2 separate regions of the Homo sapiens genome follow, and region 1 is reported to be linked to region 2. The links are microRNA targets in miRTarBase. Many come from high-throughput screens and were not tested one by one. Region 2 holds a microRNA gene; the other region holds the end of a gene's coding sequence. Distances are between the middles of the regions.

Evidence for each region. The annotated mature microRNA hsa-miR-125b-2-3p reads UCACAAGUCAGGCUCUUGGGAC and lies in region 2 at 2,304-2,325, opposite strand. An mRNA with a match to its seed (bases 2 to 7 or 8) in the 3' UTR can be bound and repressed. Matches are read on the target gene's strand: a 7mer-m8 pairs with bases 2 to 8, a 7mer-A1 pairs with bases 2 to 7 and ends in A, and an 8mer does both.
Region 1: the mRNA of DIP2A is a reported target of hsa-miR-125b-2-3p. The part of its 3' UTR that is shown has no 7-base or 8-base seed match.

What each region holds. Positions count from the first base shown.
Region 1 is chr21:46,567,401-46,570,400 of GRCh38, reverse strand. It overlaps DIP2A (disco interacting protein 2 homolog A), which reads right to left. Exons shown (of 38, transcript NM_015151.4): 38 at 386-3,000. The coding sequence ends at 2,779. Among named protein-coding and RNA genes, the nearest start is that of S100B, 36 kb to the left of the region's middle.
Region 2 is chr21:16,589,463-16,592,614 of GRCh38, reverse strand. It overlaps MIR125B2 (microRNA 125b-2), which reads right to left and starts at 2,378; the gene lies at 2,290-2,378. The region is part of intron 6 of MIR99AHG (mir-99a-let-7c cluster host gene); the gene reads right to left.

The DNA of each region.
Region 1 (3,000 bases), 30 Mb from region 2:
AACACGAGGACATATTCAACATGACCAGACACAACACTTATTTGCCTATCAAATTGTTAAAGAGTTATTTTAATCTTGAGCACATGTCCATTGCCAACATTACTTGGCATCTGCAAAGAGGCCTTTTCCATGCTGTCATCCTGCCCTTCTGGAGGGCAGCAGGTACCCAAAGCTTCACACCTGGCATGAACTCTGACCCACTCACTCTACCTATAAGAACTGAGCCCAAGGCAGTAATTGTAATCATGGCAGTGTAAACGTGCATCTGGGCTCACTGCAGTCCTGTTGAAACAACGCTGATGTACGGCAATACAGCAAATACTACATTTACTCATGGCACACTTGTAAAATACAGCCACTGAAACATGTAGAAGAATATATGTAATAGATTTTAAAGTCTATAATTTATTAAGTACAAAAGCAAATTATTTAAAAAAGCACTTGATCCTAATTTTGTAAAAAATTTTTAAAAAGAAAAAATAAATCCCTGAGAGGGTTTATGTTACATACGAATGCTGCTGTTTACTCAGAGGTAGAATTATAAGAAATTTTAATTTTCTTTATACTTTAATGTGCTTTCTAGATTTTATGCTATAAGCATAACTGCTTTTATAGTCAGAAAAAAAGCAAAATAAGATACAACCTATTCGGGGTAATTTAAAGACCCTTTTCACACATTTCAAAATGCAGAATTACAAAGTCAATAACTTTTATTAACATAATGATATAAAAATTTTAGTGTGATATACAGAATTCCCAGAGTAATTCTAAAACATTTTAATGCACTTCTTAAAATCTTAATTTACAAGACACCTTGTCTTACCACCACTGACCTTTCAATACAAAAAGCTGACAATTTTTGTTTGCTATAAAACTACAACATTAAGATTGGAGTTAGGTAGTTTTTTTTTTTTTTTCTTTCCCTTCCCAGCCATTCTATTGTAAGGAATGTCCATTAGACTACTTCCCAAACCTCTGTATGTCAACAATAAGTTACATAGATTCTGTACATACTTACAACAGGATTATTAGAATTCCAGTATGTCACAACATACTTTACCACAGTCCAACACCATGGGGAAACAGGGCTACTATGCACAGTGCTATTTGTAGCCAGACAGGAGTAAAACATGAGAGCTGGCCCAGTTAGCCAGACTCATGTGTGGAGAATTAATAACAGCTTTGTTAGGCACTGATCCAGACTAATTCTGGAAAAACCTGGTTGTTTCTGTGAAGCATGCATGATTCACAAAATTTGCCACCCTCAATACCCCAAAAACCCAACAATTTCGTAACATACTCTTCATTAGCTATATAAAAATAATCTATGTCTTAGATTCGTGCTTGACTTCAAATTCTTAGAAGTAACTAAAGGACTTTACATTCTCTTCTTTGATTTAGGTTCTGTATAATTTTAGATCACTCAGCTTAGTCAAGTTTGAACAAAATAATAAAATGGTTTGGCCAAATTTTATAGGCACACAACTCAAAATGCAAAAAGCAGTGAAGAATGTAACCATCTCCACCTTCAATACGGGGCAATGCTGTTCCCTGCTCCCCTCAACTGTACTGCCGGTACTCACCAAACAGCACTATGGATATGAAAACCTTAGACTTTACCACAATGCTTCCAAATCTGCTGACTTGGAATAAAAATAATAAATCAGTACACTTCCACGAGAAGAATTAATATTGTAGTGTTAGGAAAACTAGCAATTTAACTAAACAGCATCAAGTTACAAACCAGGAAAGTGATTTAAAACTAAATGCTGGCTTATCTTTCTGAAACAAAGCATCTAAATTTGACAGTCCAAAATGGCACTTATTGAGTGTCCGTGACAATACATGCTGACAAGCAGCACACCTCTTTTTTGTTTTTTTAAGACGGCATCTCGTGCTGTCACCCAGGCTGGAGTGCAGTAGCGTGATCTCGGCTCACTGCAAGCTCCGCCTCCCTGGTTCATACCATTCTCCTGCCTCAGCCTCCCAAGTAGCTGGGACTACAGGCGCCCACCACCACACCCGGCTAATTTTTTGTATTTTTAGTAGAGACAGGGTTTCACCATGTTAGCCAGGATGGTCTCGGTCTCCTGACCTCGTGATCTGCTCGCCTCGGCCTCCCAAAGTGCTGGGATTACAGGTGTAAGCCACCGTGGCCAGCCAGCACACCTCTTTCAATAAAGGAACTGGCAGAGGAGGCACTGTGTGTGACCACAGTGCCCTCTGTGAGCAGGGAGGATGGGTCCAGCTTGCTTCCTTTTTCCATCAGCCTCCCTGTGAAACAGAAGTGAGGCAGCTGGTTTGTACTCTGCTATCTTCCCAGAATCAAGTTTCTCCCCGTAAATGGTCTCAAGTTTCTCCCGTAAATTCTATATATGAACTTGTCATTTGAAGTGGGAATAAATAACTGAATTTTAAAAATCAGGAACTATATTTTTAGCCTAAAGAAAGTGCAAACTTGCAGTACAGCAGAGAACAACCTCGGTGCCTGTGATTCCTCACAATGCCCATGCCAGGCCTTTCCTTTCCTTTCCTTGTCTCTCCATCTGTTAAAATACCAGCATCCGTGTTTTTGTAAATGTACTTGGCAGATTCAAAATATTTCTTTAAATAATTCAGGAAGTGCTTTCTAAAAGGAGATGCGGGGATTGTTGAGAGGGATCTGTAAGAGCACAGGAAGGGCGAGTCCCGGTGAGTGAGCTCTGCGGTGTCTTCCCACATCACACCTTGGACTGCTGGGGCTCATTCATCTCCGGCACCTGGGCCGGTGTGCTGCGCTCACATGTTGTAGGCGACATAGATGGGGTCCAGCTGGTCAGCCAGGAAGCCGTCCCGCAGGTGCATGCGCTGCTTCTCACCCCGAGAGTTGATAGGGATCACCCCTGGGTCCACGATGACCACCACTCCCACGACCAGGTAGTGCTCCTCCAGCACCACGTTGGTCACCAGGGCCACCAGGTCCAGGGCATCCTGCTCTAGCCCATCCAGCTCCACCACCAC
Region 2 (3,152 bases):
CAGACAGCCCTTAATATATGCGTCTGGCTCAGGCTGGTCTCCCAACCAGGAAGCCATCGAATTGTTAATATCACTGTTTTTTTTGCATGCAACACACATCATTTTCTCGCTCTTTGTTGTAGATCTCTCCTTTTTATTTTAAGCTTAGTATGATCTGATTTTCCAAATCATATCATAAAGCCCTAAAACAATATTATCCTGTGACAGCTGAGATAGAAATGCAGAAAAAGTGGCATCTGTCTATGCACATACAGCATAAAGTAGCCTACATAAGCAAAGTCACCCACTTAAATCTATATACACCTTTATGAAGTAAAAGAAAAGCTTTGTCAATGACGCTCTTGAAAGACTGTTCATATAGGAGGGTTACATAGAGAAGTTCCAATTGTGCAGGATTATCAGTAAAAAACATTTTATATGTTTATGGTGAAAATGAACAAACATGACTGCATTCTCAATTCAGTTTTGGTATATTTCTTTTATGAGACAGAAGTTAATATATAGTGTGGTTCATGAATATGATAACATTAAAAAATTTTCACGTTTGAATAACCTATATCTGATATCACTATAGCCAATAAACATCTACCCCTTACATTGTTTTGGAACTAACTTGATGGAACCTTTCACAGATATTATTTATGATCATGTTAAAACAGATGTTAGTAAACACATACTTGTATGTGATATTCTTTTTTACAAGAAGTACTTTCAGATCCATTGTGTGAACATTGCTATTAAATGTAATCAAGCTTCTGTGTACATGTAGACACACATACATAGATTTCTTTGTATTAAGAAACTTATGGTTTTAAAAAATACTCAATTCCAATGAGAATGAGGTCAAAAGAAATAAAAGATAAATACTACCAAAGCTCTTTACTGTTTATATTACCTCCTTTCATTTGGAGCTTTAAAACTTATATTTATACATATACATACACACACCTAAAATTTCAGAACTTCTAGATAAATGAAGTAGATGATATAAATAAAGAATCTGAATAGGTACAGTGTGCATACATGCTTAAACATATTCTGCATGCTTTATATAGATGTGTATGTTTATGATATTGTTATAGTAATTTTTAATAACTATGACTAATAGATGATTTGTATTCTGTAATATTTCAAGTAGGTATTATAAGAAATTTTTAAAAAGATGAACAAAGACTCCGTACAGTATTCTAAAATACATTCATAAATTTATTTTAACAATGCAGAAGACACATAATTTATGGCACCCATCTAAGGCAATAGTTAAAAGAATGAAGCCACTTTGTTGCTTCTATTAAGGAAAGTCTGTCATCTCCATTTTGAATCTTGATATTTGTAACATTATTGTAAAATTTTTAAATAGATTTAGCATACTGATTCTATCTCCAAGAAAGACATATCTGATGTGGCAATGGCTATTAAACTTTCAAATATGACATATTACTTATGGTTGGAATAGTTACCTCCGATAAAGCTAAAATTCTTATAAAACTAAAACTATGCAGTTCATATGCAGTTGCTAGTCAAAGCAGTTTGACTTCATAGGTGGCGTTTACTGTTTTATCTCACGTAGGCCCATGATATGTACACAGTAAACTGTAAAAAATTTTAAAAAGACATATTTTCCCAGATTATTGGTGAAACTTTCACTCTTGGACTCTCGTAACAAAATAATTGTTAGAATTGTTAAGACATATAAAGTATGTTGGTTGGATAGAAGACTCAGAAAAGCCCTGGCAATAAATACAAAGTATAAAACAGCATTCTTCTTAAATCGGTAGTAAAATCTAATAGGGTCAATAAAGAAGATTGTAAATCATGTTATTTCTAGGCCTCAAGCATGCTTATAGCTGTATATGACATAGTCTGAGCCATAGTTATATGGAGGCATACAGGATTTATTTAAGTAGCTAATGTATATATTTCAATGCATATGAAAAGTTATAAATATAATCCCCTCTCTTCATTAACTGAAGAGATATCCTCTTATACTAGCCACCTTAAAATGCACCAAAAGAAGCATTTTAAAACACTTATATTTTAATTTTGCTTCTTACACAGGTTTCTTATATTGCTTTTGTATGATCGTTATAATACAAACGCTATTTCAGTGCAACTGTGTAATCACTTTAGAGTACAGTTTCTGACAATAGTATTTTTGGGGATGGGTCATGGTGAAAACGTTGCTGATGATAAAGAAAAGCATTGTTCTTTTCTCCTAGGCAGAATCTATGTATGTTCTTTTGTTCTGGTGGTAACTGCAGACAATCAATAAGGTCCAAAGCTGCTGGTTCCCCTCCGCCTAGGTCCCAAGAGCCTGACTTGTGATGTTACTAAAATACCTCACAAGTTAGGGTCTCAGGGACTAGGAAAAGTCTGGTTTGATGCGGTAGAATTCTTCTTCCAGAAATAAGGATAGCTTAGAAATTACAGTTGGGTTCACTTAGACTTTTACCTCTAAATACTATTTAAAATACTTCAGTAGAAATATATATGATATATAAAAGTTAGGATGAGCTGAGTAATCACGACGACCATTTATAGACTAATTCCAGACCTTAAAATAATGAAGAATATGAGAAACAATGCAGACAATGAACAGTTAAGAGTCATTCCATTAGATCCAAAGAAAGAGACTAAACATGGGTTAAAATCTGCTTCTAGCAGATTTGTACAGCAACACCATAGCCTCTATTACATTAAAGAAGGATTATATGCCAGTTAATGGGACCCTAATTGAAATTTTGCTTCCCATTACACTGCTATACAGCACAACTGGTAAGGTGGGCCCAGGACATATAATACTTTAAATCGGATTTAAATATATACCGTTGCAGTTAAGAACAAAACAAAAACTTTTCTGCATGTCATAATTTAATACCTCTGAAGCTTGATTTTTCTCTTTGAATCTCCAAACTATTCAGACAGCAAATATTTCCACGCATACTCTGTAGTTATTTGAGCAATGCCACTTAATAAACATGTAATTTAAAATGCTGGCAACATCATAAAAAAACCATGATTCTATTTCTTGAATAATTACATTATAAAGCTCAATACTTTTAAAAATACACAACCCCAATCCTGTATATTCACTGAATTTCCTCCGATCTTTTAGCCTTGTTTGTGGTTCGAGAACAGAATTTGTACTTTAG